Regions from separate parts of the Homo sapiens genome. Here region 2 is linked to region 1. Evidence: fine-mapped expression QTL. A gene starts in region 1. The other region holds a variant in brackets. All regions are shown on one strand. Distances are from middle to middle. Region 1 holds the start of STX16-NPEPL1 (STX16-NPEPL1 readthrough (NMD candidate)). Region 2 holds the start of NPEPL1 (aminopeptidase like 1).

Evidence for each region. PIP is the estimated chance that this variant, and not a neighbour inherited with it, causes the effect.
Region 2: its variant is fine-mapped to the expression of STX16-NPEPL1 in skeletal muscle (GTEx, PIP 0.93).

What each region holds. Positions count from the first base shown.
Region 1 is chr20:58,643,668-58,659,401 of GRCh38, reverse strand. STX16-NPEPL1 (STX16-NPEPL1 readthrough (NMD candidate)) reads right to left here and starts at 8,149. Exons shown (of 23, transcript NR_037945.1): 1 at 7,264-8,149. STX16 (syntaxin 16) reads right to left here and starts at 8,119. Exons shown (of 9, transcript NM_001001433.3): 1 at 7,264-8,119. The coding sequence starts at 7,395. LOC107985410 (a long non-coding RNA gene) reads left to right here and starts at 9,767. Exons shown (of 3, transcript XR_005647058.2): 1 at 9,767-10,413. RefSeq lists enhancers at 6,750-7,253, 7,091-7,360, 10,390-10,927 and silencers at 8,857-9,216, 11,615-11,909.
Region 2 is chr20:58,686,294-58,702,027 of GRCh38, reverse strand. NPEPL1 (aminopeptidase like 1) reads right to left here and starts at 9,228. Exons shown (of 12, transcript NM_024663.4): 1 at 8,978-9,228; 2 at 8,106-8,291; 3 at 7,436-7,606; 4 at 3,255-3,344; 5 at 2,750-2,831; 6 at 870-1,012. The coding sequence starts at 9,127. STX16-NPEPL1 (STX16-NPEPL1 readthrough (NMD candidate)) reads right to left here. Exons shown (of 23, transcript NR_037945.1): 9 at 10,801-10,994; 10 at 10,466-10,623; 11 at 10,248-10,304; 12 at 8,106-8,291; 13 at 7,436-7,606; 14 at 3,255-3,344; 15 at 2,750-2,831; 16 at 870-1,012. RefSeq lists enhancers at 1-527, 7,042-7,649, 9,090-9,795 and silencers at 8,713-8,802, 8,823-8,902, 8,933-9,092, 9,103-9,592. The variant G/T (reference allele first, on the strand shown) is at 8,217.

The DNA.
Region 1 (15,734 bases):
TGTTTTGAAAATGAGCTAGGAAACAAGCAAAAAATGACTGTAAATATTAAAATACACTGGAAACAGATAAAACACACTTGCTTTGGTTTCACTAAAATATGCTGTTAATCTGTTTCATAAACACCAAATATCACATACAATACCACATTCTATTTTCCCTCAGGAAAATAAAATAAGAGAGCAGAGCTAAAATGTAATTTTATCATGTTAAATAAATGTATATTTTAACATGTAAATCAGACCTGCAAATGCAACAAAATTAAAAAATAAATGACCCACAAAAATTGTCTGTAGCTGTATTCAGATAACATGTGAGTGACCACATATGTAAGGTCTCTGCAAATTACATCCCGCAGACACGGCTTCATCCCTGGTAGTAAGAGAGCTGAGAAACCACTCTTTCCCGGAGAGAGACACAGGTGGCAAAATAAAAGAAAAACTCTTACCATCTCTTGGTATGTATTATTATTAGCTAGAAAGCATACAGTTATTCATAAGGCTCTTATAAAAGCAAGCAAACGAGACAAAACAAAAGGTAAGAATAATTTTTTTCTTTTAAGGGGAGGGGGAAGGGAGAAGCATGACACCAGAGGGTTAAGTTTCAATTGAAAAGTAAAGGTTCTTTTTTAGATCAACATGGAACTCTATCTTCTGGACAGACATTTACTAATGACAGATAATCTAAACAACTAGGTCTTTTTTTTGTACAGTATTGATCACTGAAATAATTAGTGGTGAAATTCAATAATCAATTGTGTTTTTTTATGTTTAGCAGTAAATTTAGAAAATAAAACATAACTTTCTTATTTAAAAATAGTGCAAATGAAGCTGCTCTATCAGGGTCAAAATATTATTAAACAATGATAGCAATAAAAATGTAATCAAACTTTACTCCACGTAAAAATTCAATTAGATGACATTATGAAAAGCTGCAAATCCTCTTCATTCCTTCCACAATTTTCTATGAGAGCAAAAAAGAACTCTATACACACCCTGCCATAATAGTAGTACTAGACGATATTAATAAATCAAATGGAAAGCTGATTTAATTACCTTTTACTTTACAAAGAAAAAATGTTTTTATTTTTTAAAAGCTTAACATTAAGAGAACATTAAAATCTTTTATTAATAAAACATGATGCAAGACAAAATCCCTAACTTGAGTATCTCAGTCTTCTTCCTATTCTGCAGCGGCTCCCTGGCATTTAATCTTTGAACGATGTACTATTGCAAACCTCGGTTAAAATCTCTGCTGCACATGTGCCTATGCTCTTGGATTATTAACCGAGCACACACACCCTGATCTTCTGATTTCTACAATTATTAGTTGATAAGAGGTGAAATCAGAATCATGGGATTCTAGGGCTAGAAATAAGTCTTTTCTTACAAATAAGAAAACTAAGCTTCAAAATGTATAAATGCATTGCTTGAAGCCACAGAGCTTGTTAATGGTCAGACTGGGGACAGACCCAGGTGTTCAGGTCTCTTTCCACCCCACCCTCCAGCCTCTCTAATTTTATTAACAATTCAGGGAATTACTTGTGATAGGCAGCTACCACCACATCAGGAATATTAAATTAAGGTCACCTTTTCAAAGACCCTCCCCACCATTCTGCTATTTAAAAATAGAAGGCTTTCAAAATTCTGTCTGCCACCAAATTACCAGGAAATTTAGTCAAGACCTGAATTAAAACATTTAGAATTACCATCAAGAAAGACCAAAATAAAGCCAAATGAAAACACGTTACTACACATCATCACCTTCTAAATCTTTATAATGTCTAAATCTAGGTTTTTGACCTTCCAATGGCATGCAATCAAGCAAACACTGAAAACTCCAAGTAGCATGTGGAATTTATAGTCTAAAGAACTTTCTACATAAAACTGAAAAATAAGTGGAAACCCATCTGTGTTTACTCAGGAAGTCTGGAAAAGTTGAGCAAAATGAGTTGGAAACACAGGTCTATGCTATAGTGATATTTACTTTATTTCCGTTACTGCCAAAATAAAAGTTTGCTTCACTTTTATCCAACAAAGTACCCTTATTCTCAAAGTAAGCCTCACTGCTCCCATGGAATCTTTAAAAGCAGAAAAGCAAGTAGATCTAAAGAGAAATATATAATGATTTCATACTTGGATTCTAAAGACAGAGAACTAATTTTCCAACAGACTCAGCTTGTACTAAAACTTAGAATCTTCAATCTGCAAGTTAAAATTGACTATGTAAGGTTCATAAAGTGAGATAAAGAAAGATGCTAGCCTATTGCAAGAAAAAAAATTGTTTTAAAACAATAGGTCCTTCCATTTTCCAGGATCTGCAGCACAAGTTCTGAAAATGCAGCCAACACCAGAGTGGCCCAGGAGGTGAGCACGGGGCTCTGAAGCCAGATTTGCCAGAGTTCCAATCACAGCCCCCAGCCATCAGGTGGGTGACACTGGGCCAGTTTCCTACCTCCTCTAAAATCTGTTTCCTTATCTGTATCTGAGAAAAACAATAGTACTTATTTGATAGAGCACTGTGAAGATGAGCTGAGCTTACACACGGAAAGGGCTTAGCCCAGAGCCAGGCACAAAGTAAACTCTCCATAAATCTTAGCTAATATTGTAGTCAAGCCTGAATAAGGACCTCAGGTTTCTTATAACCATAGTTAATCCTTAATTTCCTTTTTCCTAAAGCACACATTTTATTAAAAATAATGTGCTTATGTTTCAAACTAATCTAAGACCAATTAACGCTAGCTTCCAATTATAGATTATGCATTATTTTAAAGCAGAGTATAGATTAGGCAGTAAACACTAACAAAGTAGCTCCAACCCCTATATTAGATCCATTCCCGGAGATCGAAGGAAACCACACAAATCCATACAGAATTTCATCAGATCAGAAGAGCATCTCAATATCTACCTTTCATTCATTTCTTTATGACTTTACAATTTGTTTTGAATAATTGTTTAGCTTCATAAATCCATTTCAGTTTCCTAAAGCCAAGCTGCTTGAATGAGTTGCTACCTTAAAACCTGCACTTGGCTGGCATAATAATGTGAAAGTTACTTTTGCACAGTACTGGGGCTACTTCTAAGGATTTCTGTCAGTAACCTTGGACTGACAGCTACAACACTGTTGACTATGAATTTCTCCTTTTCAAATTAAAGCTAAAGTCAGGAGAAACAATGTATTAAAACAGAACTTGAGAAAATACTGTTGAATCGATAGGGCTGCTGGAAATCACCTAACCCAAACCCCTCAGTTTACAAATGAGGCAAAAAATGTCCGAAAAGATTAAAGGCTTGCCTAAGGACACACTCTGAGCCTGCAGCAGAACAGGACTTAGGCCTCAATTCTCAGATTCAATTCTCAGTGCTCTTTCCTTTATTTCATGCTGCCCTGAGGCATGAACGTGATGGGGCACTCAAAACTGAGGCCAAAGTAAAATGCATGGGAAATACGACTGTATTTTGTTAGGAGTGCATAAAGTCAAACCTGTCTGTTTTTTTACAATTAGTTTTACTAACTTTAATACAACTAAGAACACAAAAAAGTAGAATTTTGCTCAGTTCTGGATGCTGAAATCTAAAAAGGATACAGAAAAACTAAACATCATTTATAGGAAAAAAGCATAACCACTCTGAGCCGGGAATGCTAGGCCTGGAAAGAATTCTGGGTAACAAGGCTGCAGGGTTACCAGACAGAAGGAAGACCCGAAGGAACAGAACTAAAAGCAGGACCCCAGGACACAAATAGTTGGGATTAACAGGCAAAGACTTTTTAGTGGTAAAAATCATGGAGCTGCTGGCATTTTCCATCATTGTCATACACCATGGCCAAATAAGATAGGCATGAGGGGTTATCACAAATGGGGACATTAGGCCAAATGACCTTTAGGTTCCTTCTGGCCCTTGAGGCTTTGTGTTTATCTGGTCACTGCGTATCCTCCTTAAATTCCTGTTTATTTGACATATTTGCCTGAATGCTGCAAAACCCTGTATGCACGCACAGGGACACACAATAACCCCACTACAACAACCAAATTCTAGTTTTTTCCCTCAAACTAGGATGCAAAAAATGCATGTTTAAATTTTTTGAATGGCATGGCTTTAGGTGTGCTTTGCTTTGAGGTGTATGATACACACTACTCTGCAATTAATTTCTGCAGCTTTTTCCTGAAATAAGATGTCAAAATTCAGGATTACAATTTTTTTTTTAAAAAGTCTGTTATTTTAGGTGTATTTTTAGTTGGTATCAAATGCATCAAGATCAAAGTCTACAGCTTTTTCTTCTAATTGGAAACTTAAAATTCCAGGTTATTATTTTTTAAATTAAGTTAAACTTAGGTTTAATTTCTTCCTTTCAAATTGCCTGAGTGTTAGACATGTATTTACAAATTGCCTCTTTTTAACTGTTTTACTTTACTATAACAAATATACTTACTTTAAGTTTCTATTTAAAAATTTTCAAACATGCAGAAAAGCCTACAAAATGGTAAAATGTCGCACACATACTCATCACTAGACTTAACAATGAGTAACAATTTGCCTTATTTGCTTCCTCTATTTTTGGAGGGGTTTAAGGACTTAGGTAAGATGCCTTGACATTTCACCACTAAACATTTCAGTAGGCATCTCTAATAAAATTAGCAAATGTAATGTATTATAATTAATTCCTTAATGTCACCTAATACCTAGTCCATATTCAAAATTTGACAGATACGATTTTGTTTGGTTTGCTACATGGCTTTGAAATTTACAAGTCAGAAACAAGGCTTTAAATTTTTTGTGAGCTAGATATGCAGTGAAAAGCATTGCTAAGAGTTACTCAATAGATTTTACAAATTGTGTTAAACATGGCTTTTGCTTCAAAATGTTTATAAAGCTTTTCCAACTTCCAGAAAAGTTGAAAAAATCATAACCTCTATTTAGTCTTGTTAGCATTTCGCCGTACTGTGTGCAGAATAGATTTTGTTACGAATCACCTGTAAGCAAAGTGAAGATGTAACACTTCAACCCTAAATACTTCAGAAATTTATGACATGCCATTTTTTAACACAATTAAAATATATAAATCTGTGTTTTATTTTTAAATTTGAATTCAGGCAAACTATGTTTGTTAGACTGCAAAACCTATTTTTGAGATAGTATGGATTGACTATAAGGATATTTTAAATGATATGACTGCTTTCAATGATCTGAGAAAGATTTTAAATGGTCAGACTAATATAAATATTAACATTTTCAATGGTATGACATTTAGAAAACATTTTTTAACGTTCTTAGAAATGTATTTTTAGTTGGGTTTAGAAATCTATTTTCAAAAAACTGTGAGTTAGCTAAATGTATCTGTATATACCCTGACATATCTATTTTTCCAAACTGTATACGTTAACTATCCATTTTTAATTATTCTGCTTAGCTTAAATATTTTTTAAAATTGCCTAACTTAGAAAATAATTTTCTAAAGTGGTCTGATTCAGAGATGCACTTTTAAAAAGCTTCCCGTCTCAGATACTAGGTTTTTAAACTGTCTGACTTAATCGGGAAAAAAAAAAAAACCCTCATGTTACCCAAAGGTTCAGGGTATTTTGAACCTTAATGATTAAAAATTGAAAAATAAACAATATGTTTTTCAATTAAAACTGATACCTTAGAAATCTTAATATGAGTTTCAGTAGTTTTTGAGGCAGCACAAAATCAAGTCATTTAAGGAACATGCAGTTCTTATTTAACATTACTGAAGTTCCATTAAGGAATTGAATTCATCCAATTTCTACTCGATTTCTTGGATTATTTCTTCTTCAAAATTAGCGCTAGAATTAGCCTGTTTCTATGCTACCAGACATCTTTACATTTATTTCAATATAATGTAATTCCTTTCCGTTTATAAATGTAAAAAAAACCCTTCAACTTCTTAATTAACTGAAATCTCACACACACTCTGTCCCTAGTTCTAGGCTGTTTGACCTGAGTTTACATGCTTTTATTCCTGAAACCGCTCACACGGCTTAAAATGACTTTTCTATCAGTTATATGGCCAAAGACATTCTCCACCTGTGACTTACAAAAAGGAGAAACTGTCTTTGTAGACATGATAATCATGACATATGGCAAAATTTTCCTGAAGCATTTAGATAAAGCCATAAAGAAAAAAATAAACTGGCAATACAGTCCCTAAGAGGTGAAATGAATGTTCCAAAATTGCCTAATATCAAGTATAACCCCCAAGAATGTGGTCCTGGGATGGCTATTTCCCGCCTGTTCCAACGCTGCTTCTATTCCAACCTAGTCTGCCTACAGCAGGTAGCCTGAACTACAGCCAGTTTCATAACTTCACTTTTCAATTGAAGACATTACAGAGCTAACGATCACTGTCTGGTATAGATCATCCAGACTCGCCCCTTATTTAACAGAGCAGTAAACTGAGGCTCAGAAAGGGAAAAGTAGCCCCCATTAAAAACAAACCCCAAACAGTAATTTTTCCAGGACCACCCTTAAAAAACGCTACTGCTAGGCTAACTAAAGGTTGTGGTTAATTAAAAAAAAAAAGTGCTATTTTACGGGGTTAATTTTCACATATACCTCCTCAGGCTTTTTTTAAAAAGTTCGAATGGAGAGGAAAGCTTAATTTCCTGTCTGGGAAATGGAAAGTGAAGAGGCTAGCACCTTGAGTCTCACAAACGCAAGCCCCCAGGAAGAACAGTGAGGCAATTATTCACAGGGAACAAGGCCACACAGAGGGCTGCGGGGCCGTTAAAAGAAAACGGGCGGAAAAACAAAACAAAACAAAACAACAACACAACTCCCTCCTCTTTGAGGGGAGGGAGTCGTTCATTTTGCAAGGATTTGGGTCTACGATCCGGCGACCCAGCCCTTAGGACCAAACTGAGGCTCATTACTGGGGGGAGGGGAGCTTCAAACAAAACGAAACAAAAAGGCTTCAGAAAGGCCCAATGCTTCCCAATGTTAGCGTTAAAACATATGTAAATTACAGGCGGCCTGTAGCGCAGTGACGCCAAGGCGGGGGGTGCGGGGGGGGGGGTGCTGCGGAAGTGAGGAGAAGACCGGGCAGAGGTGGAGCTGCGGCCTCACAGCACCGCTTCTTCCTCATCCAGGGCTACAGATGCCCCCTGACTCTAGCCAAGAGATCTTATTATTCTTAGTCTTATTATTCTTATCTTCTCTTTTTAAACAGAGAGACAGACAGAGACAGACAAACAGGCAGAGCCGCAGTGCACACGGTCCGTGTGTCGGAGAGGCCGCCAGGAGACTCACCGCAGCAATGCTACGTGAATGCAGAGGGCTGGAGGTGATGTGACTACTCACTTGCTCGGCTAACAGCTGCCGGTTTTGGATGGAATTATTCCGCAACAACAAGAAAGCGTCGGTTAAACGCCTGGTGGCCATGTCTCACCCTTTGCGACCCCCCTCTCAGGGGCCCCCCGCCCACTTATATTCCTGATTTATTCACTTTCTTTCTCGTGGCCCGGCTGGCCCACCCTTTCACGGAAGCTTCTCGACAAGGCCTCAGGCCTCAAGCCAAAAAGATGCAGCTGTGCGCTTCGCCAAGGCGTAGAGACCCCTCCCCAAATAACTACCTAGGCTTTCCAATTGTCTGACTCCCCCTACCCAGGGCAGACTTCGATCTCTAAGCACTTGAATCCCCCCAATCCTTGCGTAGCGATCCAACGTCCCAGAGACCCCACCCCAATCCAACCTTGGATCTACAAGCGTCTAACTCGCCAATCCGGCTCTAGACTGGGAGGCCCTGAAGCCCCCTACTCCCTGAGACCCCCCGGAGGTCTCTGCTCTCTACCCCTAACTTTGGCTCGTAAGCGTCTAGGCCGTGCCCTGAGGTCTGGCTGTGACTCAGTTTCCGCACCAGAGGCCTGGCCTAGGCCCTCTTTGGACAACCGGAGCCAGGCTTGGGGCCTGGACTCGAGGGCGCCTGCAGCTCCCTTCTGGGGACTTGTCTGAACCTGCTGAGGCCCTGCCCGACCTCCTGACCCCTTCCTTTCCTGGACGGCCTGGTCCTCCACTGCCAGCAGGCTGCCGGCCTGCAGGAAGACAGCAGGGCCTGCCTCCCCGGCCTTCTCACTCCTCTTCTCCGGCTCCCTCCATCCCCGGATCTGACTGCAGCTCAGCCCCGGACCGTTTCCGTGCTGTGGTCCCGGGTTCTGGCGTTCCCCCCTGGCCCTCTTCCTGTCCGTCCCTCGCGAGTGCCCCCCTGCGACGCTCGCAAGCCTTGCTCGCAACGTTCCGGGCGCGGGAGCTCCCTGCACTCCTGCCCCGGGGCACGGGAGTGCTCCGCCCTCTCCCGGGGTGCTCCTCGGGCGCCCTGTTTCGCCTCCCCCAACTGGGTCCAGGCACTAGGAGCAGGCCAACGAGCAGGCCTGAGCCTGGGGAGCGTGGCCCCCAGGCTGCAAACCGCTGCCAGGGCCCTTGGTCGCTGAATTAGAGTGGAAGTTGCGCGGCAGGCAAATTTGGGCTCCCCAAGAACTGAAGTTTTGGGCGCGGGGAGTTGGAGCGGGAGAGGAAAAGTTGGAGACGACTGCCTCTGCAGGCCGAGCACGCTCTACTGCAGGCGGCGGCGCTCGCTTTTTTTTTTTTTTTTCCCACTCTGGAAAAAGATGTATCCGACAAACAACCACGAGGAAATAAAAGGAAAAAAAAAAAAAAAAAAGGAACAAGAACTCCAGGCAGCCTGGCCGCGCCGCCGCTGGCAGTCGGGGGTCGTCGGGGGCGCCCGCCCTCCCCAGCTGCCGCTTTCTGTAGGGGGCACTGCAGGGTCGTGGAATCTCAAGTGGAAAAGTTCCCCGAAAACTTTGACACCTCCCACCCCCCTCCCCGCGAAAAAAATCTCTGTTCCCTGCCTGGGCCCTGGCCCTGCGACCCCCGCGCCCCCCCGTGCCCCGGGCCGGGTTTTCCACGGTTGGCCGGGCCCAGGGCGCCCTAAGCACCTCGACTTGCCGCCCCGGGCCAGGTCGGCGGGGTTCGTGCAGGGGCTCCGTGGGGCCGCGTCGGGCAGGGGCCGCCCGGGCCCGAGCACGGCACCCACAAACAGGCTGGCGTCCCGCGACGGAGACCCGGGTCCGGCCCGGAGCCGCCCGGGAGGCTTGAGGCCAAGGGCCTGGCCCAGCGCGCGGCCGGAGCGGGTCGGGGGCGCAGAGCTGTGCGGCGGCGCCTTCCGGGCCCCGGGCCTGTGCAGGGCCGGCTTCCCCTTGCGGGGCGAGGCTGCGGGCCGGGCTGCGGTGCGGGGTTCCAACAAAGGACCGAGGCCCCAGAAGCGGCCCCCACGCGTCCTTTGTTTCTGCGTGGAACAAACTTTACACACGTGTGTGTTTTCCGAGGGTTTCCCGTGTGCTGAGCGCTTGCAAAGCGGAGTCGCGCCCGGGGAGACGCGAAGCCGGTGCCCGCGGCTCACCCAGGGACCCCAGCCAGACAGCGGCACCCGCGGGGCGCGTGCGGGACCCCCAGGCGACCGGGGGAAGCACCGGTAACCGCCCCCCACCCGTGCTTTTTCTCTCACGGAGAATGTTCCCGCGCGTTCGTTGTGCAACTAAAAATTAATGTGAAACATCCATTGAGGCAAATAACAAAATGCATCCAACGAAACCCACATAAAATCGAGAGAGCCGCGAGCAGGGCTGGGCGAGTTCACTGTGAGGACCGGCTCTGGCTTCCGCGCAGCGCGGAGAGCAGGGCGCTCGCCCGGGGACGCTTCGCAGCGGTGGAAGATTCGGGCGACAGGGGACTGGGTCGCCGCGCGGGCCGGGCTGGAGGCTGCAGGGACTTGCTGACAGGCCATCCAAAGACAGAGAGGCCCTGGGGAGGGAAATTCGGGGAGCCCGTGTGCTTAGCGTAGCGCCCCGGGAAATATTTGCCCAATAAGGGAGAGTTTGTCCCCACACTGCGGCAGAACCCCCCTGCGAGCTCTGACCCCAGCAGCACGGCCAAGCCCCCCCAACCCCGCTCCCCCCTTTAGGGGACAGGTATTTGTAAATAACAACTGAGCTGGTCGTCGGTAGGAGAATCAGATTAGAAACATGGTCCCCACTCTCTTCCTATCTCCCCAGCACTCATCACCTCACAAAGCAGGGGGGGACCTGTTTACTTTTCCTGGCGCTCTCCCCCAGGCTAGAACGTGATCTTCTTCCTACGCAGGGACAGTGTTTTATTCATCTTTGTACCCACTGCCATCTCATCTGGCTTGGAACAGGCTCCGGATAAATATTTTTTAAATATGTGCATGAATTAATGAGAGACTCGAGATTTAGTCCCCAAACTCTCTGACCTCCCTCGAGTGACTTTAAGCCTTTAGAGCCCTTATCTGTTAAGAAAAAAAGAAAAAAATGTGGGTTTTTCGTAATCCTCGTAATCCGCGCCCTGTCTACTTCTCTGGGGTTATTGTGAAGATCAAATAAGGTAAGTGAAAACTCTTTGTAAACTACCAGGTGCTGAGCAAATATTATATAGGATGGTTATTCATTCATTCCCTCCGTTCAGGAAGCTTAGCAAAGTAATTCCTGGTCTTGTGTTTCAGCAGATGGTGGTCGCCTTTCCTGGTCAGTCTTAAATATTTATTACAGGACAATCTCATTCTTACATTTAGGAGATCAATCAAGCTTCCATTTCTTTGAGCGAAATGAACACTGCTTGCACACAAATAATGGAAGAAAAATCCTGGTATTCCCAAAACAGCCACCCCAAGCAACCCAAGAGCCTAACAGCGGGGAGGTCAGGAAAATCCAAGAAGTTGGCATAGCAGCCCAAAGGCAGCACCGTGCAGCTCTGACCAGGCCCCAAAGGCAGCACCGTGCAGCTCTGACCAGGCCCCAAAGGCAGCACGGTGCAGCTCTGACCAGGCCCCAAAGGCAGCACCGTGCAGCTCTGACCAGGCCCCAAAGGCAGCACCGTGCAGCTCTGACCAGGCCCCAAAGGCAGCACCGTGCAGCTCTGACCAGGCCCCAAAGGCAGCACCGTGCAGCTCTGACCAGGCCCCAAAGGCAGCACCGTGCAGCTCTGACCAGGCCCCAAAGGCAGCACCGTGCAGCTCTGACCAGGCCCCAAAGGCAGCACGGTGCAGCTCTAAGCAGGCTGTGTTTAGGTATGGGATTGTGTGCCTGAAATAGTGTTAACCAAGAGGGAGCCCAGAGAGGGCATGCACCCCTGGCTCCAGTCACGTCCATGGTCCATGTTCGCCCTGACCCACACTGGAAGGGAGTTGGGGAAGGATGTAAATCATTATATTTGAATGTTCCTTGGCTGTTTTATTTTCCTGTCAAGTGACTTAAGCTTGATTTTTTTTTTTTTTTAAAGCATTCCCCCATGGCCAAGTATGTGTTTCCTTGGAATTGAAATCTAGGTTGATGGTTTTACATTTTAAAAGCTTTCATTGTGACTCATTCTTGGCCTGGGCTAGGATTCGGTAATACTCCTCGGGCTTGGTGAGGCTCCGTGTCCTGTTTCTTGGGCTTCATACCCACTTTCTAACATTCTGCCAACGAATCCAATAAGTCACTTTTGGGGACAAGTGTTTCATTGTTTTCTTGTCATCTCATTCAGTGCAGGAGGAAGCCCCATTGAAGCCAGGCCATGGCTTGGGCAGGTGCAGGTTTTCAAGTACTGAGAGGGGATGGTTAGCTCAACAGGTCAGCAGTGGGACACACACCCTTTGGTGAAAACAATTTAAATGAGATAGGGCTCATGTAAGCCCTTATACAACCTCAGCATAGAGTAAGTGCGCCACAAATGGGCAATATGATTTATTACAGCAGTAGTCTTACTGTTGGAAAGCTCACGTGGGCTCTGCTCTCCCTGGAAGGCATCATAAACTCCAAAGAGAATGGCATGGTATTGAGAACTGAACACTTGGAAATCTAAGCACGTTTCCGAGCTTCTTGTTCTGGACCTTGGGAATCCAGATGTGTCTGCAGTGCACACTCATGTGGAAGAGGGGGCTAAACCATCTCAAAGACACCTTTTAACATTGGTCTTTCTCCCACCTATAGAAAGACAGATGGTTGTTTGCTTATCAAGCAGCAAAAGCCCCCAGGCCTAACATATGTCTCGTCTGCACAGATCTGACAGACAGATTCGGGCCAGGTTCGGGTAACAGGAGTTGTGTGTTCTGTGTCCCCAAATAGTTCCTCAAAACCTTGAGTATTTCCAACAACAGAAAACTCCCTATCTGGGTCTGTCTTCAGCTATGATGCCTCTCCCAAGAAGGGAGACTCTGGAGAGAGGCAACACTTTTGTTTTGTCTGGAGTCCCGTAGCTTTTAATACCAGACAATTCAATACAGTAGGCATTTCTAAAAATCTACCAGTGGCTGTGCCTATCTCTTGCCAGGCACTGCTGAAAGAATGAAACAGCAAAACTCTTGCCTTCAGGGAATTTGCATCTCCACTGTCTCTACCCAAATTCTGGTTCTCATCGTGTACATTTTCCCAGCAGCCTGCTAACAACCACCCGTCTCTTCCCTCCTCATCCTGCAGCCACAGTGACCTTTCCAAAGCATAAATCTGATCATGTCACTGCCTGATTGAGGCCCTGAAACAGCTCCCTCTGGCCCATGCCAGCCGATCTCAAATGACGCTCAGCAGAAAACAGGTGCTCTAAGTTGAACCAAGCTGGGCATCACTAATATTAACTAATGATGGACTTTTCTTGGTTGTCAGAAAAAAAAAAATGAAGCTAATTAATGGAGTAGTCTCCATCTTAAGTGTTTCTCTTCTCGCTTTCTCTTAAACCTTCAGTCCCTGCCACCACTTGGCTGTATTAGAATATAGTATAAGACTAGATCTGATTTATTCCAGAATCATGGATTTCAGTACAATTTTTTTCCCATAGATCAGTATTTCCTGGAGTTCTGCATTTAGGTTTTCTACACTTTCCACATGGCGGAGTGCCCCCTGGGCATTCAAAGCCCTGCCCAACAGGCCCCACCTAAATGGTGAGCTTTTTTCTTTCCAGGACTTGGCTCACAGGCCTTTCTCTGCCTGGTGGGGGTAGTGGCGGGGGATGTGTCTTGCCCCTTCTGCTTGGTGAACCCTTCATTGAAGACAGCACCCCCTACACTGTCAGGTGTGATAAATGTTTGCGGAATGGATGACTGGATGGATTAATGCACAAAAGGTGAGATTAACTATATTAAGTGCTAGAGAATACCAGACAGTCAAGACTCAAAATGGGTGGAGAGATTAGGGCAGTTCTCTGTCCCCCTCGCTCACCCCTTTTCAGCCACACTAGCCTTCCCACCATTCCTCACACCTCCTTAGCACCTGCTTTGCTCTCCTTCCTAGGTTCTTCAAATAACTGGCTCCTTCTCACCACTCTTGTCTCAGACTATTCAATAGAAAGTAATCCTCCTACCCTGTCCACCGTGTGGGGAGAGGACTCTCCTCTCCCAGGGCCCTTATGTCACCATCATACCAGGTGCCTGCCCATGCTTGGTCAAGTTCAAGACTGAAACAATGTCTAACATCGTGGCTTTTGGTCTTTGAGGCCAAGAAGAGGCCTCTTGGGTCACAACACATGCCAGCAAAGCATATCTGCATTTTACTTTTTTTCCAGGATGATGTGGACACATGTGTACTCAAATAAATCAACCCTCCCATCTTAACCATCTCCCTTGGCAGGAACAATAAGTTAATGTGCCAAGCCAGGACTGACCTGGATGACTCAAACCCTGAAAAACATAAAGGAAATCATTGTGTTTTTCCGCTAGCAGGTATTGAAACATAGCCAACTCACTCGTTTCTAGTTTTTTTTCCCATGGCCATGACCACTGACCTGCTCGTGGTAATTTGTGTGATGTGCAAGTGCAGGGCTGGACTCCAGCCTTCTCCAGATGCTGCCTGTGCAACCAGCAGCCCCTTATTAGCTATGTGGCCATGCATGGCTCAAGACTCCTTTGGTCACAAGGGACAGAACCCAAATCAAATGGACTTAAGCTTCAAAGCAAATGTGTTGGCCCAAACATCTATGCGTAGCTGGATCCAGAGGAGGAAACATATCAACAAGGAGTTTCTATCTCTCAGCTCTTTCTTCCCCTGTGCTGGTTTCATTCTCAAGCCAGTGAACCCCAGGAGGTGGCAGATTGCTCTCTGGAAGCTCTGCCCTGTTATCTCACAGGACAGCAACCCCAATAGATTGAAATTTCTCTTTTCCAGTGGTTTCAAAAGTCCTAGAATGGACTCTCATTGGCCTGTCATGAGTTATAGCCTTATCCCTGAATTCATTTTTTTTTTTTTTTTTTTGAGCCAGGGTCTTACTCTGTCTCCCAAGCTAGAATGTGGCGACACAATCACAGCTCGCTGAAGCCTCAACCTCCCAGACTCAGGTGATTCTCCCACCTTAGCCTCCCAAGTAGTTGGGACTACAGGCAGGTACCACCATGCCTGGCTAATTTTTATACTTTTTTTTTTTTTTTTGAGACAGGGTCTCACTCTGTCACCCTGGCTAGAGTACAGTGGCGCTATCATAGCTCACTGCAACCTCAAATGATTCTCCCACTTCAGCCTCCCAAGTAGCTGAGACCATGGACATGTGCCACTGTACCCTGCTAAGTTTTATATTTTTAGTAGAGATGGGGTCCAGGCTGGTCTCGAATTCCTGGGCTTAAAGAATCAACCCACCTTGGCCTCCCAAAGTGCTGGGATTACAGGCATAAGCTACCACACTCAGCCATAATTTTTTATACTTTTTGTAGAGATGGGGTTTCACCATGTTGCCCAGGCTGGTCTCGAACTCCTGGGCTCAAACTATCCACCTGCCTTGGGCCTTCCAAAGGCTGGAATTGCAGATGTGAGCTAGTATCCTGAAATTCTAAACTTAGCCAGAAAGTAGTGATCATCAGATGGGTCAGACCAGGATCACGTGACCACTTCTGAACTCAGGGAGGGTGCCAGGGTCTGATCCATCCAAACACAATGGATTATAAACTCGCCTCTTCTGAAATCAGCGTGTTAGAACCAAGAAAAGTGATGTTGGGTGCTCGCATGCAACAGATTTCTACCTTGGGTCTGTTTTCAACCCACTGTGTGCCCTTTGCACACTGCTATATGCCTCTCCTTCAAACCCACTCCTCTGGCTTCTGGAACTTTGGTCATGCCTGCTTCTCCTCCTTCATCATCCCTCTGAGGCCCAGCCCCCAAATTTTGATTTTCCCCAGTGTTAAGTCCTTGCTTTTCTGTTACCTTTCACCTAACCACAGTGGCAGGTCCCGCCTACCCATGGGCCTCCTGCACACACTCTACCCATGGGCCTCCTGCGCACACTCTACCCATGGGCCTCCTGCGCACACTCTACCCATGGGCCTCCTGCGCACACTCTACCCATGGGCCTCCTGCGCACACTCTACCCATGGGCCTCCTGCGCACACTCTACCCATGGGCCTCCTGCGCACACTCTACCCATGGGCCTCCTGCGCACACTCTACCCATGGGCCTCCTGCGCACACTCTACCCATGGGCCTCCTGCACACACTCTGCCTCTCATTCAGAGCATCCGTGTGGATTTTCCACTGCACGGAGCTGCCTAGGTGTCTTACATGCTCAACAGTGAACCACTGGCTGCCCATCCAAGCATGCTCTTCCTTCTCCTCTATTCCTTATCTTTCATTGGCACCCCTAAATAGAGCCTTTGGTATCATTTACCATCCTTGCTCCCATTTGCCCCCACCACCTGCCAATGTACCACTCAGGACCACATCGTGACAGATTCTGCATCCTAAATATCAACAG
Region 2 (15,734 bases), 43 kb before region 1:
TCCTTCCCAGCCCAGGCCTGAGCACAGAGGCTGCTCACACGGTGTGTAGGATGAATGGATGGAGATGGTGCGGAGGAGGGCAGGGCTTGCTGGGGCGGGCAGACTCGGCCACGACGGGGGCTCCACAAGCACCTGTCCTCCTGGGATGGCAGGACAGAAAGCCGTACCACGGGACAGGCTTCTAGGGCCACCGCACCGGGATGTTCCCGGGTGACTCGCTTCTGTGCCGTGCCCAGATTCCCCTCGCTCTTGGGGGTCACGTGCCTTTGGAGGGTCTTGTGTGGCCACTCTGAGCGTTTTCTCAGTGGGGACCATGGGCAGACTCAGAGACACAGGCGTCCCCTTGCCCTTCTCTTCTCGGGACAAAGCCCCCAAGCAGCAAGCCCTGCCTCCCTGGCCCTGCTTGCCATTTCTTCCGTCATTTCCGGGGCTGCTCTTGGGCCCTGGCCAGGCTTTTGTTTCCAGACCCTTCTGAAGGGTGGGCATGAAACCCAGGGAGCCACGTGAAGCTGTCGCCTCAGCACATGGGAACCCGCCCTGCGCACTCTCCCCGAACCCACCCCAACCCAGAACCCCCAGAAACCTCGCCGCCCCCCACCCCATGACACCTCTCAGAGGGCTGGCTGGACCCAAACTGGGCCCCTCCCCCCCCCCCAGGGCACCCTGGAGAGCCTGCCGGCACCTCACCTTCCCCTCCCCACCCCACCCCACCCCAACCCCAGGGCACCCTGGAGAGCCGGGCCCACACCTCACCTTCCCCTCCCCACCCCACCCCACCCCACCCCCAGGGCACCCGGGAGAGCCGGGCCCTGCACCTCACCTTCCCCTCCCCTCCCCCAGGGCACCCTGAGAGCCAGCCCGCACCTCACCTTCCCTTTGATGCTGAGGCCTCCAGTGTCATAGACGATGCCTTTGCCCACCCAGGCGATGGTCTGCGTGGCTCCATCTGGGGTGTGGCTGAGGACGGCCAGGGCTGGGGGATGCAGGGCGGCTTTGCCAACCCCATAGATTCCTATGGAAAGCGTGGGGAGAACTGGGTTAGGCTCGGGCTGAGCTGAGCGGGGAACTCCCAGAGGCCCCTGGAAACTCTGGCCGGCTGGTGTTTCTCCTGGAGAGCCGCCTGCCTGAGCCTGGTGCTCCCTGCCCCTTCTCCTGCCCCTGGCCAGTGTGGGATTGGGGAATGCAAATTAGCTCCAATGTCTGAGATTGCAAACAAATTCTATGCAAAGTGTTGTTTGTTAAGCAAGAAAACCCACTAAGGGAAAAAAATATTGTATCCTTTCCAGAAAGAAAAGAACAGGATTGCAGAATGAAACGATGTTTGGATAACACCTCAAGGCTGCCCCAGCCCATGCTCGTCCCCACTTCCTGAATCCTTTGAGCACTCAGGGACTGCACCGCCCTTTCACACTCGCTCCCACAGTCCCTGCACCACTGCCTCTTTGGTTTACATGACACATCTTCTCAAGAAAGCTGTGGCCTGTGCGTGTGCAGAGTCTATGGCTCAAAGTCCTGCAATAATTGAGTCAAACAATCATAGCAACAATGACGAGAGCTAATCATGGCTGCCTGACAAACTCCAACTCATCCTGTAAGATCCACAGCAAATGCCACCTCCTCTGTGAAGCTTTTCCTGACACAAGCGGCCTCTCCCTCCACTTGTAAATGGCTCCTGTCTAGGTAGACACCACCAGGATGGCCCCTGTGGCCCCCACGTCTGGGTATTCATGTCCTTGTGCAGTCCCTCCCCCTCATGTGAGCAGGTCCTGATGTCTCACCTCTAACCAAAAGAAAAAGGTAGAAGTGATGAGATATCACTCCTGGGATTAGGTCACAGAAAAAGATGGGAGTTTCCATCTTGTTTGCTCGCTCTTTATCCCTATCTCTCGCTCAGAGACCTTGCTCGGAGGGTGGCTCAAACAGCAAGGACCTGCTGCCTCCAGCTAATGGCCTGTGAGGCCCTGAGACCTGCCAGCAGCCTGTTGTGAGCCTGCCCGGAAGCACATCGCCAGCCCCAGGCAAGCCCTCAGATGACTGCAGCCCCAGCCAACAACCTGACAACAGCAGGCAGAGACGCTGCACCAGGGGAAGATCCCCAACCCACAGCACGGGGAGGGGATAAGTGTTGCTGCATTCAGCTGCTATCTTCCGAGTGATTTGTTTTGTAGCCACACATAACACAGACAGCCGCCTTCCTCTTGCCAGTCTACAAGCACCACGGGGCAGCTGAGTCATACTTATCTGCCCCTCTGGTTCCTGGGCAGTGGGGAAAGGTGGGTCTGGGGACTTGGGGAAGGCCTCTCTGAGGAGGGGGCATTGGTTGAGATGGCCTCCACCAAAAATATATCTTGGGGGAAAGTATTCCAGATAGGGAGAGCCATCCGCACACAGGCCCTGCCTGCCGTGATGGGAACTTGTGTATTCAAGGAACAGAAAGGCCCTGCTGAGCCAGTCCCAGGAGTAAGGGTGTGCAGCACGCGAGGACGCTGGAGAGGCTGCAGGCAGGGAAGGACTTGGATCTAGCAGCTTCCAGAATCCAAATCAGAATCTGGATTGCCTCCCCTTCTCCCCCAGGGACGGCTGCTTCCCAGGGTCCGGCACTGGGCTTGGACACAGGCTGATTCCTTTCAGGTCACAAGCAGGATGAAGTTTGGGACAATGTGCCATGTGGCCCGCCGACCCCCTGCCACCCAAGTGCCCCTGGCCACTGCCCGAGGCCAAGAGCTGCAGGGATGCAGCCCCCACCCACCTCCAAATCCTCTCGTCTTCAGTTCCTCATCCCGGATGATGGTTGGGATGATCCCCAGCTCCTTTCCAACTTTGTTAATCTCCTGGACATGTTCATGGAAAAAACAACAGCACAACAACACATGAAGATGGCTGGAAACAGGAGAGGCCGAGGCTGGGGCCAGGGATGAACCGCTGCCTGTGCCGCGTCGGGGAGCCGGGCTTGGGAGCCAGCTTCGCGTGTGATGAAACCCAGAAGAGGGGGCTCACCCTCCACACACTCTCATTTCCTGTAGCTCTGGCTGTGGTCCTGCCAAGGGGCCTTGAAGAGGAGGCTCTGTCCTCCCCACACACCCTTTCCTGAGGCTTCCTGGAGCCCGGCAGACAGCAGCGCTCCGCCGAGGGCAGCCCTGAGGTTCCCTGGCCACGTCAGGGTGTGGACAGCCCCAGGTTTCCTCTGGCTCTCCTGGGAGTCTATGACACCCACCCCAGCCTGGTCCCACCCCCGGCCTGATGACGCCACAAACCTCGAGGAAGGTGTCGGTGTTCATCTCATTGCAGGGTGTGTCCACGATGCGGGCTGCTAGCCGCACGCCGTCTGTGGCATTCGCTAAGCACTAGGGAGAAAAAGGCCATCACTGGGGACCAGGTGGGAGGCAGATGTTCTCCCCTTGTCCATCCCCCAGGAACAAAAGGCAGCAGAGGCAAACATCACCCACAGGGCTACTGACAGGGCAGCAAAGAGAGGGGAGAGGGGGACCATGGCTCTCGCTGCCTGCCCCACCCCCAGCAACCCAGGGCCACCGGCCACCTGTAGAAAGAACCTTCAGCACAGCCACCACCCTGCGCCTCCACAAATATACAGGAGTCCCCAGCCTGGGGTCCTGCCCTTCTGTATCTGGATCTTTTCCAAGCCCTGTGTCCTGTTTCTCCCCTGATTCCAGCTACAACTGAAGGTAGGTGGCCCTCATGCCAGCCCCTGAGTATGCCCTGAGCTTCCCACGCCTCACCTCTGCAGATCCCACAGTCCTTTCCCTCCCACCAAGATCCCAGTCATCCTTCGAGGCACTTCTCATAGGCCGTATCTACCAGTAGCTTTTCCAGATCCTCCCCACCAAGCAGAAGCACTCTACATCCTGAGTGCTTGAACCTGCTGGCCCTCCCAGACGCCTTCCCTCTGGGCCGTTGCTTTCCTCATGAGTCCCACGCAAGTCCCTCATAAACCCTGCAAGACAGATGGGGGTCTGGCTGCCCTAGTGCTGTCACTTGACACAGCACGGTTCTGGGCACGGAGGGGAAGGACACAGAGGGAGGTCTCGCCTCATGGAACTGACGTGTCCACCCAGGAACTGAAAACATGGGCCCTGCTGGCCTGGCAGGGCTTCAGAGCCCACACTCGAAGGCAGGGCAGAGAGGGGCACATGCACCAAAGCACACATCACGTGGGTCCCAAAAATGTGTCCTTCAGCCCTGGCTTGGGCCATTCTTTGCCTTCTCATGTGTGTCTCACATCTGCCCTGGGAGCTTCACTCTCTCTCAGCTGAATCTGCGGGCACCCCTTCCCCACCCTGTTCCCCACTGTGCATCCCCAGGCACAGAAGCTTCAGACAGCTGGCTGCTTGCACGGCCTCCCTTGCTCACCAGAAAGACAATATTAAGAGAAGAGCAGCGCTGTTTTGCGGGGGTGCAGGACAGCAGCAAGTTTATCATCCCTGCCTCTAGTCTCATAATGTCAGGGCAGCAGGCGCCGGGTCGATACTGCAGCCTGGCCACCTCCCCCGCCCTGCCGAGGTAATTAAACCCCAAAGCCTCAAAGGTAGAAACCTGGACCTTGACAGCTCTGATATGAATGTGCCTGAGCCGTCCCTGCCGCCTGTCAGCGGGTTCTCTGTCTGTGAGGGCATGTGGGGACTCGACAAGGACTGTCTGAGAAGTGCGTCAATGCTGTGTGACTTGCCTCCAAGGAGGCCAGGTGTCACCTGGAAGACCCCAGACCACGGCGAGCTCGGGGCTCTGACGCAAGAGCGCTCCTGTGGGAGGGAGGGCAGGGCTGCGGGTGCCCTCCACCAACACACAGCCATGCTGCACTGGGGAAGGGTGTCCCTTACCATGAGAGGAGGACCACTCATTCTGTCCACATGTGCCAGGCATCGTGCAAGACTCTGAGAATTCAGAGACGTCCAAGGGAGTCAAGCTCAGCAGAGACTCACAGTACACAGTCCCAGTCCCTGCTACAGAAGAGGATGAGGCCACAGGATGCAGAGGGGACAGGGTCCTGGGTGGGGACTGGAAGGTTCCCGCAGGGAAGAAAAGGGAGAAGCTGAGTACAGGCCACGTGGGTGTCAGATGATGGTGTGCTCAGGACCCAAGAGGGCTGAGTGGTGGCAGCTGCAGCTTAACACCTGGCTCTGCCCCTTGCTGCCGTGGCCCCGGTGAGCCACTCAATGTCGTGGGGACAACAGGATGTATCTCACAGGGCTGTAGTGAGAATTCAGTGCACCAGCACGTGCTGTGTGCACACTCCTGCCTCAGCGCAGGGCCTGACAGCTGACAGCACTCAGAAGATGCCACCTTGCACACACCCAGATGTGCCTTTGGAAGGCGAGTGACGCAGGAGCTGGAAGGAGGCCATCTGTGGCAGGGTGACCAGGAGACTGCTGCCACAGCCCAGGAGAGCACCTCAAGGCACGGCACTGGGCAGAGCAAAGACAAGAAACAGGACACACTAGCTAGTTGGGACCAATGGGGTCGGGGGCCATGGGGACTGACTGCCCCCACTGGTTCCATCACCAGATGTTTACTGGGCCTTTTTCATGTGTGGGGTCGGGTGCTGGGATCACTGTGCACAAGACCAGGTCCCTGCCCTCTGGGGACTCCCAACCCAGTGAGGAGCACAGGAGATCAACAAAGATGTGACATGTCTAGTAGTGATGGTTTAGCTGACAAATGGGAGGGTGGTGCTAGCCAAGAGGGCCAGGCCTCCCTGGGGAGGGAATGTGGGCAGAGGCTGGATGGAGACCATGCTGGGCTGGAGAGGGAAGGACCCCTGCAGAGGAGCAAGAGCAGGAGTGGGCGTGGCCAGTCTAAGGGACAGCAGGAAGTCCACAGGAGGGGAAGGGACTGAGGGCAGCAGAGGTCAGGGTGCCCTGCTGTCCTCGGAAATAAGGGTGATGCTTGAGCCCCCGGTGGGCTCTGCGGGCACCCGTGCCCACCTGGATGGCAGGCCTGGAAGTCAGAAGAAAATCCCTAAAGACAGAGAGAAGAGGCAGATGCTGGTGTCTGACCCGGAGAGGGCTGAGCAGGTCGGAACGCTGGAGAGGCCATGAAGGGGATGCCGAGAGGTGGCAGCAGTCTGGGGAGCAGCGGGAGGGAGGGAGACCTCTGGATGGGGCAGATGCACTTCAAGGAGGGACGGCAACACCCCATCCAGCAGTCCTTAGAAAACAATGTCAGGATGGGGGCAAAAACTCTGTCTCCATGGGTTAAGAGGGAAAAGAGGATTAAGCAAGGCAAACCAGTTAGACTTTTTTAAAAGCTCAGAGACGAAGGGAAAAAAGGGGAGCTATCTCATGCTGGTGAAGATGGAAGAATTTGGGTTGAGGGGCAGTGGTTACAGGCCTCAGAGAGCACACAGTGAAAGAAATGAGGTGTGGCCCAAGTGCTGATGTGGGAGAGCTTGCCTGGGTGAAGGCGACAGCCTTCCAGAGCCAGAAGTGAAGAATGAGCGCTGACACATGAGAAAAGACAACCTGGGTGGCGCTGTGGGCTCGGGGACTGGAGGTGGCAGGCGCAGAGGCTGGGACCGCTGCCGTGGGGACAGGAGCCTGATGTCAGGCCCATCCAAGGATCTGGAGCTGGGAAATCACTTCCGGCCTTGCAGCCTCAAAAGGATCATTCTCAGCATTGAGTGAAATAACACATGTAGAAGTGCTCCCTGTAAAGGGTGCAGCAACACACATGCACACACACCACACACACACCACTCATGCACACACTAGCACTCATACACACACAGCAACACACACAACACACACACACACCACTCATGCACACACCAGCACTCATACACACAGCAACACATGCTGCTCATGCACACACCAGTACTCACACACAACAACACACACCACACATGCACACACCACACATGCACACCACACACACACACCACTCATGCACACACCAGCAAACACACACACACAGCAACACATACCACACGTACACCACACACACCACTCATGCACACACCAGCAAACATACACAGCAACACATACCACACACACACACACATCACACATGCACACACACACCCCCCACACATACAACACATGCACATACACTCATACACGCACAGCAACACACATGTGCACGCACATACACACACACGTGCATACATCACACACGTGCACACGGAGCTCACATAAACGGGCAGGGTTATTTGGAAAACAGCATGGACGTTCCTGGCACTGATTACGTGCTCAACAAACACTGCCTGTATACAACAGAATCCTGAAGTCACAGACCACGCTGAGGCAGAGGCAGGGGGCCTGGGTTTGGAAAAGCCTCTGCCGCTTCCCAGGAACCAAAGCTCCTGGGAAGGGCAGGAACCCCCTCCTGCCCCCGCAACAAGCTTTTCCCTCTCCCGACCTCCCTCCCACCTGCCCGATCTTGCCCGGGCCCAGGGGCAGTGTCTGCCCTTCCAGACACCCACCTGCAATGTGGACACCTCCACCGGCCCGTTGTCTTGTCCCACCAGGAAAAACTCCACGGTGACCGTCTTCTTCTCCAAGCGCCGAGAGGCACCTGAGCGGTGGGTGAACAGCGGGAAGGCCCGGGCCAGGGCACAGGCGGAAGCAAAGACCTCCGGCTGCTCGCAGACCATCTGTGGCACATAGGGAGACGGCGTGAGGGGTGCAAGGGCCGCCACCAGGGAGTGCAGGGAGCTGCTCTTTGAACGCCTCCGGAACATCAGCTCCCTGGCAGGTGACATCTAGACAGAGATGTCCCACAGCAGCCGCCACCCCATCCCTCAGGTCATCCCCGGAACCATGGGACCACCATTGGTCATGCTCCAAGAGAAATAACACATTGGCCACCAGATGTCAACAGCCTGACCAGCCATGAAAATGAGGGACAGAGGGACAGACACAAAGTGGGCCTCAGGAAATCTAGGTTTGAGTCTCTGATTTGCCACCAAAACTGATCTGGGGCAAATCCCCGCGTCTCTCTGGACCTGTTTCCCTGTCTACAGAGCAGGGATGATAACGTCCACAGCCCTCTGGGCGTGCGCTGCAGTCTGAGCAGGGCTGTGAGCTCCCCAGGCCCGAGCTCACCGCTGCCCGACTAGGAGCACCGTGGCTGCCTCCTCTCGAAGCACTCACCACAATGCAGCGATGCGCTCCGGGCGGCAGGCAGGTCCGCACCAGCCGCGTGATGAAGTGGGCGGCCGAGGGGCTGTTGTGCCGGCTCACCCTGCAGGGCAGGGCAGCCAC[G/T]GTGGCGTAGTTCAGGTAGAGGGGACAGCTGTCCGTGGGGTTGGGGTTGAGCGTGCTCAGGGCAGCCTGCCAGAGCTAGATCAGAAGGGAGAGACAAGACACAGAGGCTTCAAACAGCGGCCACGTGCCAGGAGGCCCTGCCCTGCAGCCACGGCCACAACCACTCCTGCAGTCCTGGAAGGGCACTGCGCAGCTCCCGGCCACCGTTTTCCCATCCTTAGGGAGATGTGTCGCCTCTCTGCAGAGCTAACTGTCTCTAGGCTGGCTCGCATCCCCCTGGTGGGATGAAGCCACCAAGCCTGGAAGGGCCAGGCTGGGGGCTGCTTTGCTTCCAACACTCGGATAGGGCTTAGGCGGCTTCCACCAGAGAGGGGGCAGGGGCCAGGTGTCCCCAAGGAAAGGCAGCTGGGGACACTGCCATGGGAACTTCTGGAAGCCAGGGCCTGTCGCCAGGCGGGGCCGACGCGCGGCCCTGGGAGCGGCCACGTCTCCCCCCCCGCCGTCCGCAGGTGTCGCGGCCTCGCGGGGCGCAGGGCTGGGCTGACAGGAGGACCACCGCGCCGCACCGGCGACGGGGCCTGGGGCTGGGCCTCCGCGGGCGAGGACTGGCCTGGCGGCTGAGCCCTTCAGGGAGGCGGCCCGGCCTCGTTGGGCCCGGCCCGGCGGCGGCGGGGGTGCGGCGGGCGAGGCGGGGCCTCCGCGGGCCGCCCGGGCCTGGGCTTCCGCGGCGCGGGTCGCATGGCGGCCGGCGGCCCGCTCACCTCCTCGGTGACCCGGGGCTGCAGCTTCCCGCGGACGTGGCTCCAGGGCACGCGGTGCAGGTGGTGCAGCTGCCCGAGCAGCAGCAGGGGCCGGCTCTGTGGGTCCGAGTCCCCCGCGCTCGCCTGGAACTGCAGCCCCACGTTCGCCATCTTCCTGCCGGCCCACGCCCCGGCCCTGCCCGGCCCGGCCCGGCCCGCCGCTCGGCCCCCTTCGCCCCGCTCCGGCCCGGCCTCGGCACCGCCCCGGCCCTGCCCGGCAGCCCGCGGGCCCCGCCTCCCCCGCCGCTCCGGGCTGCTCGCGAGACGTGCAGGGCCCGCCCGGGGCGCGAGGGGGCGCCGGCCAGGCCGGGCGGAAGGGTGCGGGCAGGCCCGGCCGGGCAGGCCCGAAGCCGGCCCCGAGCAGGCCCTGCCGAGTAGGGCCCGCGCGCCCGGCCTCCAGCGGCGCCGCCCCTGGGCCTAGCGGCCCTGCCCAACACGCGGGGCGACGTGGCCCGCCAGGCAGCGCCTCCCGGACGGGCCTGGCCTCCAGTGGGGCCTGGGCCGACGTAGGCCCAAGCCCACCCGACGCAGTTCCGCCCGGTCAGGCCTCAGGCTGGCCCCAAGCAGGTCCCCCGAGGTCCCTTAGCAGCTGCTTTTGATCCCCAGGGACCCCGCACCCTGGCCACCCATCAGTTAGGCCGGAGGGGCCCAGTGACTCTTGGACCTGAGTCAGGTCCTTTTGTCCCACTGCCTGGCATGGTGGGTACAGCGTGGACGGTCACTTCCTCCTCACTTAATCGGAGGTTCCCTGGCGTTTATCAGACCCCGCTCTGCCAGGCACTGCCCTGGATGTGAGAGGGTGACAGGGACGTGGCTTTCCATCCAGGGCACTGCTGCTGGGATGGCCAGTTACAAATCCAGGCACTGCCTGGCTGCATGGGGGGCCTTCCCGCCCACCCCTTTGCAAGAAGGGTCATCTGGCACAGTCTAAGCAGGAAAGGAGGGACGAGATGAGACGAGGAAGGAGCAGGGTGACCTGAGTCACCTCAGTCGCCTTACAGGGGAGGAAAGGCCATCGGGGGTGTGGGGCAGGAGCCGGGTGGTGGAGGAGCCAGGGGTGAGCCTTGAGTGGATGGTGGAGGCGGAGGGTCCCACCCACAGGGTCAGATGCAAGGGTCAGGGAATGACGATGCATTGGGGAAGCTCCACCCAGGAGTCATTTAAAAGCAAAAATCTGTTACCCAACATCCTGATTGCTCAAGGGCCTTTGGTTGGTACCCTCCTCTGTTACCTCCATGTAGTTCCATAAGCCACTCCTGTTATTTTGAGTTTCTTCTTCATAACCAGCCTAAAAATGAAAAAAAAAAAAAAAAAAAAAGAAAAGAAAAAAAGAAAAAAAAGCACTGTCAACTCCCTGGCGTGGTGTGAGAGGTTTTCCACCACTGACCTCCCAGCTGGCCCCCTAGCTCCCTAACTTGTAGCCCCGGGAGCCACAAGCCAGGCTTTCACCTTCCCTGTCCACAGGCTCCAGGTCTGTCTGCTCAGCTCTGAGCCATGGTCCCTGGCCCCTTGGAAACACCACAGACTAGAGCTTCAGCATCCTGAAGGCAGGTCTTTTTGACTTTTTGTTGTTTTTTTTTCCTCCAGTTCCTGGCACAGAGCAGGCACTCAAAAAAAAAAAAAAAAAAAAAAAAAAAAAAAAAAAAAGCTGTTGAATGACTGAAAGGCATTCCTTTGAAACCCTCAGCTTTCCCGACATAAAAGTCAACGCTAATTGGATCTTATTTTCTTCAAAAGATTTTACAGCAGCTGAATGTTTTCACACATTGGTAAAGGGTACTAACAGTGTGTATGAAGATCTCTCACTCTTTTTTCTGTTTGCAAATACGTTGCAGACAGGCACACGGCACTCCAGAGGACTGAGACAGCTGGAGGATCTTCCTAGAGGGTGAGAGACTAAGGCCATGCCCTGACAGATGTAATAGGACTTCCACAGGCGAAGAGATTGAGAAAGAAGGCCTTCCACGTGGGAGAAGTCCTGGGAGGAAACACAGACGCAGAATATGTCCAGCAGGCTCTGAAACCTGTGTGGTTAGAACAGAAGGTTCCTGGAAAATAGGAGTGGGTGAGGAGATCGACTGGGGAGCCTGGCTCACTCTATAGAATTTTGCAAACTGAAGAGGGATCCAAGAAGCATTTCAGAAAGCCAGATCTAGCAGGTTTGTGTACAAGGAGTTGGAAATGAGATAAACTGTTGGTGGAGAGGTCATTTTGGAGATGTTTTTCTTTTAGAATTCTTTCATATTTAAGAATAGACTGAATAACCCTGACAGTCCCCAGAAAGGATGAACAAAATGATTCAATTCAACCAACATTTGTTGAGCACTTAGTGTACACAAAGCAAGAGAAAACGTTAGATGCTTGTTAAAAGCAAATATTGGTGATTCTGGTTTTAAGCCACCCCCGAATTGAAGAAATCCAAACTAAACAGAACGCTAAGGAATTATTCCACTTCAAATGCCTGCCAATTTCCTCAAGATTCAGCTTGTGACAGATACAAATACATTCCAGGAAAGTACTTTCCCTTTTTCACTGCTGACTTTACAGACTTTAACATAAATAAGACAGGCAGCACTTTGTTTAGATAAATTTTTATGAAGGTATTAATCCATGGCTTACTATATATTTCACTGTCAATGAAAAATTCAACTCTATTTAATTTTCCTTAAAAAATGAAAGTTTAAAACAAATTACCAGATCTTTAATGCAACCCAAAAATCAACTTATGTTTTTGATGGCTTGAAACCTATTCCACATTCAATTGGATGTTCAGACTTTGCTCCAAAGTTGAAGAAAAGATTAAAAACTTCTGGGACAAATCAGAATAAAGCTCCTAGAACTTACTAGGATGTTTTTTGGTACAGTTCACATTCTAGGACACATTTCTGAAATCCTATCTTGTAAGATGGCTCTAGGTGTTTGAAATCTACATTTATATGTTAATTTCATGTCAGACTTCACCCCTATAAAACCTAATGCCTGCTTAGACTCAGCTGATTGCCACGAGGCTCTCAGATTCCATTATATCCGATACTTCAAAGAAACATTTCCTCGGTGCATCTGCTTCGTATTTTCTAGCATTTTCATTCATTCATTCATTTGACATACATTTGTTGAACATCAGTTCTGAAAAGCTACAGGACCCGTGAGGCTTTGGGGACGCAATAGCGTGTGTGTGTGTGTGTGTGTTTGTGCATGTGCACGCATATGTGTGTGTGGCCAGGAGGAGGAAGGGGAAGCAAGTAGAACAGTAAAATCCAGAGATCCAGTCACTGGGAGAAGATTGAGTTAGGGAAGGCCCCTTGGACTACGATGAGACTTTTGAGTTGGGCCTGGAGGGATCGGTTAAAGTGTGTCAGGCAGTCTGATCCCTGACCAAGGAATTGTTCATGCAAAGGCCTGAAGTAGTAAAGGACATGGTTCATTCTGGCACTGTCAAAAGCTCATGTGGAACCAGGCCCCGTGGCTCAGGCCTGTAATCCCAACACTTTGGGAGGCTGAGGCAGGTGGATCACTTGAGGCCAGGAGTTTGAGACCAGCCTGGCCAACATGGTGAAAACCCATCTCTACTAAAACTACAAAAATAAGCTGGGCATGGTGGTGCATGCCTGTAATCCCAGCTACTCGGGAGGCTGAGGCATGAGAATCACTTGAACCTGGGAAGCGGAAGTTGCAGTGAGCCGAGATCACGCCACTGCACTCCAATCTGCAGGACAGAGACTCTGTCTCTACAAAAAAAAAAGAAAGAAAAAGAAAAGCTCCTGTGCCAGATATAAAGTGCGCATAAAATATATACTGACCTTGCAGGTTGTACTTGACCTTGCAAGTAACTGGAGACCAGTGGAAGTGCCTCAGGCAGGCCTGAAGTGGAAGCAAGGAAGGGCTCCTTCCTGCTTCAGAATGACCTGCTCGTGAGCCCAGAGGAAGCAGAGGCAGGCTCAGCTCCAAGGACCTCCCTGAGCAGCTGGCTGAGAAGTGAGCCCACAACCAGTGAAAACTGTGACAGCTGCACGACCGCCTTGAATGCTGCCCTGCGTTGTGGATGTTTGTGCTGTCCCTTGCTGCAACCTGAGTGCCTGCACAGCAGGGAGGGCCTCCGTTGCCTTTTGCAACTGGCACCAGACATGCCACCTAGATTTGCACTAAATGTTCCCTGAAGGGAGGAAAGAGAACTCGTTGCCATGAAAACACATTTCTCTAGAAACTTTTTTGAAAAGTTCATTAACTTTTGGAAAAGATGAAAAACTAGTATAATGAACACTTGTATACCCTTCACCTAGATTCATACATATATATACAGATACACACACACACACACCACACACACACCACACACACATACACGCACACACCACACACACATACACACACACCACACACACACACACCACACACACCACACACACACATACACATATATACGCACATACACACATGTATACACACACAGACACACACATACACACAAACACACACATAGACACACACACACATAGACACACACACACACATATATACACACATACAGGCACACCTCGGAGATATTCTGGGTTCAGTTCCAGACCGCCACAGTAAAGTGAGGTATGCCTCTATATACACAAACATGCGTATATGTGTATGTGTGTGTATGTATATATGTATATGTATATGTGTATATGTATATGTATGTATGTACACATATTTTTCCCTGTACCATTTAAAGTAAGTTGTATACACCCCTACCTCATTGTGTATCTCTTAAGAACAAGGACACCAGCCGGGCGTGGTGGCTCACGCCTGTAATCCCAGCACTTTGGGAGGCCAAGACGGGCAGATCTCCTGAGGTCAGGAGTTCAAGACCAGCCTGGCCAACATGGCAAAAACCCGTCTCTACTAAAAACACAAAAATCAGCCAGGCGTGGTGGCATGCACCTGTAATCCCAGCTACTCGGGAGGCTGAGACAGAAGAATCGCTTGAACCTGGGAGGCGCAGGTTGCAGTGAGCCGAGATTGCGCCATTGCACTCCAGCCTGGGCAACAGGAGTGAAACTCCATCTCAGAAAAAAAAAAAAAAAAAAAAAAGGAATTAAACTACCATCAGAGTGAACAGGCAACCTACAAAATGGGAGAAAATTTTCGCAACCTACTCATCCGACAAAGGGCTAATATCCAGAATCTACAATGAACTCAAACAAATTTACAAGAAAAAAACAAACAACCCCATCAAAAAGTGGGTGAAGGACATGAACAGACACTTCTCAAAAGAAGACATTTATGCAGCCAAAAAACGCATGAAAAAATGCTCATCATCACTGGCCATCAGAGAAATGCAAATCAAAACCACAATGAGATACCATCTCACACCAGTTAGAATGGCAATCATTAAAAAGTCAGGAAACAACAGGTGCTGGAGAGGATGTGGAGAAATAGGAACACTTTTACACTGTTGGTGGGACTGTAAACTAGTTCAACCATTGTGGAAGTCAGTGTGGCGATTCCTCAGGGATCTGGAACTGGAAATACCATTTGACCCAGCCATCCCATTACTGGGTATATACCCAAAGGACTATAAATCATGCTGCTATAAAGACACATGCACACGTATGTTTATGGCGCCATTATTCACAATAGCAAAGACTTGGAACCAACCCAAATGTCCAACAATGATAGACTGGATTAAGAAAATGTGGCACATATACACCATGGAATACTATGCAGCCATAAAAAATGATGAGTTCATGTCCTTTGTAGGGACATGGATGAAATTGGAAATCATCATTCTCAGTAAACTATCGCAAGAACAAAAAACCAAACACCGCATATTCTCACTCATAGGTGGGAATTGAACAATGAGATCACACGGACACAGGAAGGGGAATATCACACTCTGGGGACGGTTGTGGGGTGGCGGGAGGGGGGAGGGATAGCATTGGGAGATATACCTAATGCTAGATGACGAGTTAGTGGGTGCAGCGCACCAGCATGGCACATGTATACATATGTAACTAACCTGCACAATGTGCGCATGTACCCTAAAACTTAAAGTATAAAAAAAAAAAAAAAGAACAAGGACACCAGCCAACATAATCATGATCATATGCTGATCATACCCATGAAATTTAACATTGAAACAATACTATTATCCAGTATACAGTCTGCAATGAAACTTTAATCGTCCCCTTGTCCTTCATGGCTTTTTCTTTTTAAATCCAGAATCCAAATAAGGCATTGCGTTTGGCTGTGAAGCCTCTCTGGCCTCCTTTAATCCAGAACAGTCCTTACCCTTGTCTTTCATGCACTGGTATATCCTACAGAAGCTCTCACCATCTGGATTCGTCTGTTTTCTTAGATTTGGGTTGAACGTTTTTGGCAAAAATACGGGTTATGGTTCCCATCGAACCTCATCAGGAGGCACATAAACTAAGTGTCCCCCATCATTGGGCAAGTGGGGTCTGCCAGATCTCTTCATGGTAAAAGTGCATTTCCCCCTTTTATAATTAATTGAATTATAATTTCCTCTTTAGAATCCATGGAGTGACACTTTGAGACTAAGAACCGTCTGGGTCTCAACCATCTATTCCTGAATGTCTTTGGTATCCAGTGATGATTTCTGCCTGAATCAAGTATTGGTTGAGTGACTTTCCAGCTCTATCCTCCCTTCTACACTTACTACCTGGTGTTCTTCAGCAAAGACCTCCCCCTCCCCAGGGCTGGCAGCATGATTTGTGGAGTCCAGTGC